Homo sapiens: one gene and its partner. The protein of the gene in region 2 interacts with the protein of the main gene of each other region in a pairwise test. Each region holds a gene or a part of one and is shown on either strand. Other genes may lie near its edges.

Evidence for each region.
Region 1: the proteins of MPZL2 (region 2) and MEST interact in a two-hybrid assay, tested with the Homo sapiens proteins (one large-scale study listed by BioGRID and IntAct).

What each region holds. Positions count from the first base shown.
Region 1 is NC_000007.14:130,498,585-130,503,098, forward strand, and holds part of MEST (mesoderm-specific transcript homolog protein), read left to right. Parts: intron 1-1,290; coding exon 1,291-1,331; intron 1,332-1,877; coding exon 1,878-1,948; intron 1,949-2,204; coding exon 2,205-2,306; intron 2,307-4,059; coding exon 4,060-4,136; intron 4,137-4,514.
Region 2 is NC_000011.10:118,260,357-118,266,468, reverse strand, and holds the start of MPZL2 (myelin protein zero-like protein 2 precursor), read left to right. Parts: upstream 1-2,171; 5' UTR 2,172-2,315; coding exon 2,316-2,373; intron 2,374-3,371; coding exon 3,372-3,538; intron 3,539-3,820; coding exon 3,821-4,031; intron 4,032-6,112. UniProt on the Homo sapiens protein: Mediates homophilic cell-cell adhesion.

The DNA of each region.
Region 1 (4,514 bases), on a different chromosome or scaffold from region 2:
AAACTATGGGATCTCTACCTCTTCTGTGCCATCAACTCCTTTGGTGGTCTGACAAGATTTATGGACCCTTTCTCAGAATGTTTTAAAATAAAGAAACAAACAGCATTACAAAGGATAGTGACTTTACTTACATAGTCAATAAAAAGCTGCATTATAGTCACATGTGCTTTTTCAATGCATTAGATAGCAAGTTCTAGTGGAGGACCTAGTAACAGCTATATCAGAAGGAGTGAGGAGTGTAAAGACTGTTTGCCATATCTGAAACAACTGCAATAGGTTATGAGAGTGTAGGATTGAAGATACAGAAAAAAGCCACAAGTGTTTCTAATACTACTATGATGTTAGTGTAGAAAATCCTTACTTAATGTCATCAATGGGTTCTTGGAAACTGTGACTTTAAATGAAACGTTATAATGGAACCAATTTTTTTTCTCATCAATGTTTTAAAGAAAGGATGTTATTCAAGGACCTGCTGTACCTCATTCTGCTTAAAGCCGAAGTTTCCAAGAACCTATCCTGATGTTAAGTGAGGACTTAACTGTATGAGATTCCCCAACTCCTAACTGATGGCAGTGCCAAGTTTCAGTTAGAAAATACCGAACCCCTGATTAGACTTTCTGGGTAGCCAGCTTGCAAGTTCATGAATATCCAAATGTCTCCTGAACGCCTTAAGAGCAGACTGGGAGAGAAATCCGTCTCTCCCTTTATCACTTATGCTCATGGCTTTCTTCCACTGACTCTGAAGAGAAAGGGAAAAGGAAAAACTCTAGGGTTTTTAAAGGACCTATACTTATTTAAAAACTTCTTGTTTTATTCTTACAGCCCAAATCATTAACCCTCGTGTTCTGAGTGATAGGGGGAAATGCTAAGGGGAGTCAGAGCCTGGTTATCAGCATTTTGGATGACCATATATTTTCTCCCCGTTTCACTATCTTTAAGATGGGAAAAGTAATTCCAGTGGGATTTATTGTGACCAGTTAAACACAGAATTCCTGGAGAAGTAATTAGATGACAGTTTTAAATTGTTATTTGTAATTCTGTTTTGGTAGTAAAGGCTGCAGAGGTGATGGTGAATAGGGTGGGTAGTTTCTGATAATGGGCTTGCCTTTGACCTAAATGTAGGTAGGCTGGGTGAGGTGGCTTGCACCTGTAATCCCAGCACTTTGGGAGGCTGAGGTGAGAGGATTGCTTGAGCTCGAGACCAGCTGGGCAACCCAGTGAGATCCCGTCTCTATAAAAAAAAAAAAATTAAAGCTGTAGGTAAATGACTAAGATAAGTCTCTTCTACAGGTATCTTTCCTGAGACTCACCGTCCACTCCTTCTCCAAAAGGTTGGTACTTCACTGATAGACCTTTAGTTTTAGGATTTGTACTGACGTAAATAATGCTGGGACCTTTTAAGGGCCATAGCTCCTGTAACTGGCAGTAGTTAAATCCTCTTCCTTGTGAATTTCTATTAATGAAGTTACTTTTTCCCTTCTTAGGCAACTAAAGCAGAGGCAGTGGCCCCTACGTAAACCCAAAACCAATCCTAAGAATAAGAGATCAACAAATATTTGGAGAAATTACAGCTATGGAAAGATCTGTGTCACAAGCTTGATGTTTGAACAAATTAGGATCCTACTCTAAACTTGAATATATCAGAGTTAAAGTTTTAGGGATTTAGTGAATTGTAGAAAAGTAATCTTAGATGGAATTAGAAATAGATTTGTCTTCCTTGAGAGAAGAATGCGGGTAGGCAAAACAAAATGCCAAGTACCAAACCATTCAGTAGCAGGAGATTTGGCTAAAGATTTAGTTCCTAGTATAAAACCTTTTGCCCCGGTGAGGATCTTCCTCTGGGTTCTTGAGCTTTACCTCCACTTATTCCCCTCCAGCTACTCAAAGATGGAGGTGTGCTGTCACCCATCCTCACACGACTGATGAACTTCTTTGTATTCTCTCGAGGGTAAGTGTCACTGTCAAAGATTGTGGCCTAGAGCAATGTCGTGAAAAGTTGCTGCCATTACAATTCTGGGCCAAATCCTAAGGCTTGATATTTTAAAGCAAAGGTGTTGGCCGCTTGCCAGGGAAGTAGAAGGAATTCATAAATCACTTATGGGTCAGACTGCATGGCCCAGACTGCATGGCCTCTGAGGTTCCAGCCATATTGAACATTCTGAGTTCTCCTCACACTTATCTTCCTGCGTTTTGGACTCTTTCAGTCTCACCCCAGTCTTTGGGCCGTATACTCGGCCCTCTGAGAGTGAGCTGTGGGACATGTGGGCAGGGATCCGCAACAATGACGGGAACTTAGTCATTGACAGGTAAGAAGTTACCCTTTGCTTTGGTTTCCAGAGACGTGTTTTTGTGGAGAGTGGGGATTGCTTGTTCTGTTCCTTGCTGGCTTATTCCCTATCACAGGAAGGCTGATGATGACCTATGGGGCAAACCAAAAAGTCATGGTCTATATGAAGAAAGAAATAGAAAATAAGAGTGAAACTGGACTCTTTGTTAGTATTAAATGCTTCAAAGTATTGAATCATGGTTGTGAAAGTAGCCTAGTGCCTCCCTCAAGGTACAAGGCTCTTCCTTTTGCCTATCTTTCTGCAGCAACGGGGAGTGAGAGGGCAGACTTCTCTTTCTCTGTCTTGTACAAAGAATTCCCATGCCTTGGTTCAAATGAGAATGTAGACACTTTCACAAGGGACCCAGAGGTGGTGATAGCTGTAACTACTTGGGATAAGACTCTGACTTCTAGCCACCTGGCTCAGTGTAGCTTCCAGTGTTTTTACTGATGGCTTTGCTGGGGATTGTATGTTAGAGGGAGCCAATCCTCCCACCCTCTCCTAAGCCCCAACAGGATCCCTGAATATTTCATTTTAGTATTAAAAAACTGAAGAACAATTAAGACTGTCTTTTAAAATTATATTTTCCTTTCCAAAAAGTAAATACTATTTGTAAGATGAGATATTTGAGGTTCACAAAAATAACTGTCCTGGAGTTGCCAGGCAGAATGAGTAGAATACATGAGTTTGAGTTCTAAAATGTGGCAGTGGTGTCTTACGCTGGAGAAAGAGGAATCCTCTCCATTTTATCTGTGGTCAGATGAAGCTTTGTGCTCATCAACATCTACACTTAGAATTTTGAAGTAGATGTCGGCTGGGCACAGTGGCTCACGCCTGTAATTTGAGCACTTTGGGAGGCCAAGGTGGGCGAATCATATGAGGTCAGGAGTTTAGAGACCAGCCTGGCCAACATGATGAAACCCCGTGTCTACTAAAAATACAAAAATTAGCCAGTAATTCCAGCTACTCAGGAGGCTGAGGCACAAGAATTGCTTGAGCCCAGGAAGCGGAGGTTGCAGTGAACTGAGATCATGCCACTGCACTTCAGCCTGGGCACAGAGTGAGACTCCGTCTCAAAAAAAAAAAAAGAAAAAAAAAAAGAAGTAGATGTCAACACAGAAGATCATGTGTTACAATCCTCTTATTTTAAAAATGAGGAGGCTAGCCAGGTCCTTTGGCACATGCCTGTACTCCCAGCTACTTGGGAGGCTGGGGTGGGAGGATCTCTTGAGGTCAGAAGTTATAGCTGTAGTGAGCTATGATTGCACCTGTGACTAGCCACTGCACTCCAGCCTAGGTAACATAGGGAGACCCTGTCTTTTAAAAAACAAACCAACAAATGAGGAAACCGAGTTGAAAGATCTGTGTTATATGTTTGAGTCAGAGAGGTAGGTAGTGGTGGAGCCTAAATTGGAACCTCAGACCTGGGCTTTTTAGTTACATAAAATCCAAACCAACTGTCAGCCTTCCTAGATCTCATTCCCTGCTTAATAAATACACAAACCCACTAATTCTTATATTGATAGTAGGCATAATCACTACTAGAGCTACATGGTGGTTAACTCTAGAGGTTAACAGAAATGGATAAATTAAGTGGGACATTTCCAGGAATGCTAAACTGCTTCTGGATTAAGAAATTGTATCTTGTGTTCCTTGTGGCTCGTTATGCCCTTGAATCCCTGTAACAGTAAAGGTTTCTTGTTCTGCACATGCTGACTTACCTGTCCTACAGTCTCTTACAGTACATCAATCAGAGGAAGAAGTTCAGAAGGCGCTGGGTGGGAGCTCTTGCCTCTGTAACTATCCCCAGTGAGTATTTTTGTATTATTGATAGGAAACTGAAGGACTATAGGGTTAAAGTAATCGCAACTCCTTTATACAATTAGGGTTACCAGATTTAGCAAATAAAAATATAAGATACCCAGTTAAATTTGAATTTTAGATAAACAACAAATGCTTTTTTAGTATTTAAGTATATGTTGTACAATATTTGGGACCTACTTACACCAAAAAAAAATCATTTTTCACCTGAAATTCAAATTTTCTGGGTATCCTTTATTTTACTGGCAACTGTACTCATGACATCTGGAACAGTGATGTGTGTGTGTAGAGTGAAGTATATAAAAAGCTGAGACATTACTGTAAAGGTAGTTGGTATTACTGATTTCTGTGGTGTGCATTGTCAGT
Region 2 (6,112 bases):
ACTTTACTTTTCTTCTTTTCAATTTCCAGAACTCCTCTTCCTTTCCTTCCATTTGCCTGGGCACAAACATAACTTAGGCCTTATGTAGATGCCTGCAGTTTTGGTCTAAGTCCTGCTGACTGGTGTCCAGAAAACTGTGAGGGGCAAACATCCTTTTTATTTAGCATTTTCTCTTCTTAACCTTCTACCCTTGGCCTCTTCCTTGCCCAGTGAGGTGAAGTGGTTGACTGTGGAGCCACTCCTGCTAACTGGAAGGAACTGGGCGTTGCCAGGCACTAAGCCAGGAACTTGAACTCAGCTGAGAAGTGGGATCTGGATAACTCCTGCCCCTCAGAGCAAGGCTGGCAACCAGCTCATGGGTGTTTGGCTACCTGGGGGAGGGATTTCTGCTCCTGACAACAGGCAGTTTGTTCAGTTCTTCCTGCCCTGATTCTTCTCCTGTTGCTTTTCACTGCATCCCTGAGCTCTTTGGTAACTCTACCTCTCACCAGTTTTTGCAATTTGCTGTAGACTTCAAAATCCTGGCTCTACCTCTCCTTCCTCTGTAGCTGTATTTCCCTGCAAAGTTGGAAGCCAACCAAGATCAAGTTTCCTTAACTCTTTTTCTTTCAGGGTCCTGGAGCTGAACTCTTCTGACCTACATACCAGAAAGGCTGTATCTTATCCTTCCTCACCAACATCTGAAAGGTTCCCCCAGCAGACTGATTTTAGGTCCCTTTCTGAACTAGAATCTGACAAAGACGCCACACAGTTTTCAGAAACTCTCACCATGCAACAGATTTTCACTAGCACACAGCTGGTCTGCATTTGGGGCCACCTCTGCTTTCTGAGTTCCAACACAATGGATTTTTGTGGTTGTCTACCTGTTTTTGCTCCATGCCCATGTCATCTTTCTCCTGTTGCTTTCTGTTTTCTGCACTTCTGCATTCTCCTCTCTTTTGGTAGAATTTTCTCTTTTCTTCCCTCTTTATGATGTTTTATTTTTTTCTACTCAGCCTGCCGCCTTCTCTTGTTCCTGCCACCCTTTCTGCTCTGGATTCAGCTAGAAGATTTTATGAGTGACTGAAGAGTTTCTAGACTGCTAATCCAGGGATAAACGCAATCTGTCTTTTTTCAGGGTTAGATTCCCAGCCCAGCCTACTTCTTAACTGCATGTGTAATCTTCATCCCCCTCCTACCGATGTTTCTGTGCCGCTTCATTAATCTGTAAAGATGACCCACCCTCTTTCCAGACAAGGAGGCATCTTTTCTCGTTTAGATTCCTCAGCTCTTTAGACTTCTCAGTCATTTAGCTATTCAAAAAATGACAGATGAAATCCGAGGCACAACAAAGTTATCATGAAAACCTTTTCCTTGAGAGCCCCATGTCTGATTGTTCATATTAGCTGTTATTTGGTGGAAAGAACGCTAGATTTTTAAGAAAAGTTCTGGTTTTGCCACATGGTAGCTGTGCAACCTTGGGCAAATCATTTACCTTCCTCGGGTTCTTAGCGTCCTCACTGGTAGAATGGGAATGCTTCACAAGGGCGTTAATGGAGATGAAACAATCAGCAGGAGAGCACTTTGTAGATTGCACTCGGATGGCAGGGTGAATGAGCAGGGATGGTGTCCTCATTTGTTTTTAAAGTCTTCAAAGGTAAAGGATTGTTAAGCATGGAGATTTGATTTGTTGTTTCTGCCAGGTCTCCTGGAAAGCTACAAACTAGAAGAAGTGCAGGAATCCTTGTGGTAACAGGGGTATCAGCTTTTTGTCCACAGAGGGTCCTAAGGAATTCCGACTCCCGTTTTGAAATTGTATCGAATCCAGTCCCAAGTGAATGTGGCCCTGGGGTGGTGCTTTGAGAAGTGGAATCACTGCAGGACAGTTTCAACATTCACTTCCCAGGCAAGCCTAAAGCCTGTTTTAAAAGGGCGTGTGGGGGCCAAACCCATAACAGTCTGGGACATTTCAGACTGGCACCACCTCCTCTGGCTGTTTCCGAGGCCATCTAGAGGCCAGAGCCCAGTCAGATTAACTGAAAGTAAAGAGAGGACTGCGGGAGTTTGGGACCTTTGTGCAGACGTGCTCATGCTCGTTCGTGTAGAGGGCGGGAGAGAGGAAAGGAAGGAGGGCATTGGGAGCTGAGGCCCCACCTTTCATTTCAGAAAAGTGCACAGGCAGAGCGGGCTGAGTCACAGGCACAGGTGAGGAACTCAACTCAAACTCCTCTCTCTGGGAAAACGCGGTGCTTGCTCCTCCCGGAGTGGCCTTGGCAGGGTGTTGGAGCCCTCGGTCTGCCCCGTCCGGTCTCTGGGGCCAAGGCTGGGTTTCCCTCATGTATGGCAAGAGCTCTACTCGTGCGGTGCTTCTTCTCCTTGGCATACAGCTCACAGGTAAGAGCCGGCGGGCTTCTCTCAGAGTTTCCTCCTTCACTGCTCACTCTATAAAGTTAGCTAATTGTCTTAGAAGTTGCAAGACTTTTGTTTGGGAGCCTGAGCCACAGATACAGTTTGTTTTACTTTGGGTTTTACTGAAACCAAAGTTGGTGGACTGTTTTTGGAGAACTGCTCTCGGACAAACAGGTTTAGGTGTGTTCAGCTGCCAGTGATTCAGGCACAGAGAGGGCTTTCTAATCTCAGGTTACATGCCATTTTTTTGTGTGTGGCTGTTCTCAACCTCCCACTGCTGGCAGGACTTGGCATTTGGATTTCTGTGTGTGGGTCTTGTCTGTGACTCTCAGCAACACCAGGAAAGTGGAGATTGTTAGAGAGAGACCTACTGTGATTTTGAAAGTGCCCCAACACACACATTCTAAATGTAAATATCAAGTTTAAAAAAATGCCACGTGGTACAAAGGTTCTAGGGGTGCAGGCAAACATAAGCTGTCTGGAGTTGATTAATTCAGTTTCTGCAATAGACTAGTAACAGTATGAAATCCACCTAAGGACCCATCTGGAAAACTTACCTGCTAGGAGACCACTTTACATACAACACATAATGCTTAACCTTAATACATAATGTAATGTCTAATCAATGTTATGATTCATTTTAATTTTTTGTTTATGCTTTCAATTCTATTTGCGGATGTTTGTAGTTTGTTATAACAGTTTTGAAGTCAGTACCACGAGGCGAGGCTTTAATGCTGTGGAGAAAGTAAAAGCACTGCGAAGGCTTGCTGTGTGGTAGTTTAGTTGTCACATGGAATGGGAGGGTCCAGGCTGCATACAGGTAGGAGTATGTAGATTCTGGGTGAAGTAAGTTTGGGAGATGGGGCATCTCAGTTTCACTTTACTTTAAGTCCTACTCAGATATTTATTTTGGAAGTGTCAGCAGAAGTTCTCACAATACTACATCCCCTGTTAACCCTTCTTTTTCTTCTTTTTCATTGCAGCTCTTTGGCCTATAGCAGCTGTGGAAATTTATACCTCCCGGGTGCTGGAGGCTGTTAATGGGACAGATGCTCGGTTAAAATGCACTTTCTCCAGCTTTGCCCCTGTGGGTGATGCTCTAACAGTGACCTGGAATTTTCGTCCTCTAGACGGGGGACCTGAGCAGTTTGTAAGTAGATTATCATCATTTTCCAGGGTACTCTTGTTTAGGGAAATAATAAGCCAGTCCATTTCTCCTTTCCCTTCCAGTATTTTTCTTAGCAGCAAGCACAAGGTTAAGCTCGGAAACAATTCTTGGGACAGAGACTGAGAGGCCGTTGAAGGGGAAAGCAAGTGACAGAGCTGCAGACAGGACAGTTGGGTTTGCTGGTGTTTCACTTCCGCTCCCACCATCTTGGCCTCCTTGCCTGGGTGCTGAGTAAGAAGACCTTTTGCCATTTCCCCTCTCTAGGTATTCTACTACCACATAGATCCCTTCCAACCCATGAGTGGGCGGTTTAAGGACCGGGTGTCTTGGGATGGGAATCCTGAGCGGTACGATGCCTCCATCCTTCTCTGGAAACTGCAGTTCGACGACAATGGGACATACACCTGCCAGGTGAAGAACCCACCTGATGTTGATGGGGTGATAGGGGAGATCCGGCTCAGCGTCGTGCACACTGGTAGGTTATGCAGGGAACAGTGGTTTTGGAAAGGATGAGAGCTTGTAGAAAAGAAAGGGGCAATCTTTGTTAAGGCTGAGAGAGAGGGACAATCTTTTGTGATGGATAGAGAGAGGGACTAGCCCTTCAGAACTGGGAGCCTCAGAGGGAGACCGAAGAGTTCTGGGGTAAAAAGAGAAAGGCTTTGTTTGGCTGTGGAAAGAAACAGAAAGTAAAGCAAAGGAACTCAGAGAATCCGTTACAAAAATGGCATTGAGATTGTGAAAGGGAGAGGGAGCAATTCTTTGATGAAAGGCTTACAACAGGTCTGTTCACTCACTCATTTATTCGAGATACTTATTGAGTACCTACTCTAATGCTAGGCACCGTCAAAAGTGCATGACATACACTATCTCATTGAATCCCCACACCACTCTAGGAGGCAGGTACTAATGATGGGAGCTAACACTTACTGAGTACTTCCCAAATGTCAGGGGCTTTACATGACACATTTTATTTAATCTTTACATATCTCATCAGTTTATTGTGCATTTAATGCCTCCCATCTTGCCAATGAGGAAACGAGGCTCACAGAGGTTAAGTCATTTGCCCTGAGTCACGTAGCTGATAAATGGAGTAACTTAGGACTCAAACCCAATCAACTTTGAATCTAAAACTGTGCTCTAAATTGGTGCATTGTATTGTCTGCATCCCTATAAAGGACAATCTGGAAAACCATGCCAAGCAACAAAGAGCAAAGTACACGAAACTTATGAATTGTAGATCTGGGTTTGAGTCATTGCTACCATTTACCAGCTATCAATAAGTCTTATTTTCCTCATCTGTAAAGTGAGAATAACACAGTAAGGATCACAGTGAGGATAAAATGAGATAATAAATGTGAATATGTCCCAACCTCTGAATTGTACTTAACAGCTACCATACATTGAGTGTTTATTTTGTACAGGCACAGCAAGGAACAACTTACATGAATTATTTTATTTTTTATTAAGAACTCAAGAAATGAATATCATTATCTCTGTTTATACATGAGGAAACTGAGGCTCAAAGAAGTTAATTACTTCAAATCACACAGCTAAGTATTTCAACCTAGTGCTCTCTGGTGTGTGCTCTTAACCAACACTACTCCAAACATATAAGCCTGTGCAGTGGTACGATTTCCTTTCATTCATAGTACAGTTTAAAACCATTTCTCAATGCCCCACCAATAGAGGGCTGTGTGACCTTGCAGAAGTCATTTGAGTATTGAAAGAAATAATGTAATGGTTTTGGACCTCAGTTTCTTCATCTGCACAATGAAGAGGTTAAACACACAAAAAATCAGTGGTTCTTAAATATATGTGGATAATTATTCTTTGAGAATCAAATAAAAGCCATGGCCCTGCTTCCCATAAAACAGTGGAGACATACAAAATGAGACTTGGATTCTGTGGGCTTGCAGACTACCTTCCATCCTCTTCCCCATCCTCCTTCATGGAGTCAAGGCTGGGAATCCTGGGCTAGACATTCTCTAATGTCCTTTCTGGCTCTGAGGGCTTATGGAAGTATAATCAGAAATAAAGCTAAAGGACAAGAAAACCAGGGTTCACAGACTCTAGTGTGGCTTAGGGGACCTTCCCTCTGGTTTCCCTTTTCCATCATTTATCCACTAGACTGTAGCTTCTGATTTACTTTCCTATCCTCTCAGTGGCATGAGCTCCTTGAAGGTGATGTCTTTTTTGGCTCAGCATTTCTATCACAGTGCCAGGAATGTAGTAGGCCCTTAATAAATCTGAATAAATAACTGACTGAGTGAAAGTGGTGAGAAGTCAGGGAGAAATGGGTTGGGCACTACGTTTGATGAGGTTAGCAAAAACCTTACCCCATAAGTAGTTCAACCCACCCAGTGGTTTTCAAAGCTGCATCAGAATCACCTGGAGGACCTGTTAAGACACAGATTGCTCAGCCGCACCTCTAGTGTTTCTAATTCAGTAGGTCTGGGGTGGGGCCTAAGATTTCCATGTTCTCAAGTGATATTGTTGCTGTTACTTCGAAGACCACACTTTGAGAACCATTAAAGTATGTGTATGGTTTTCCTATTG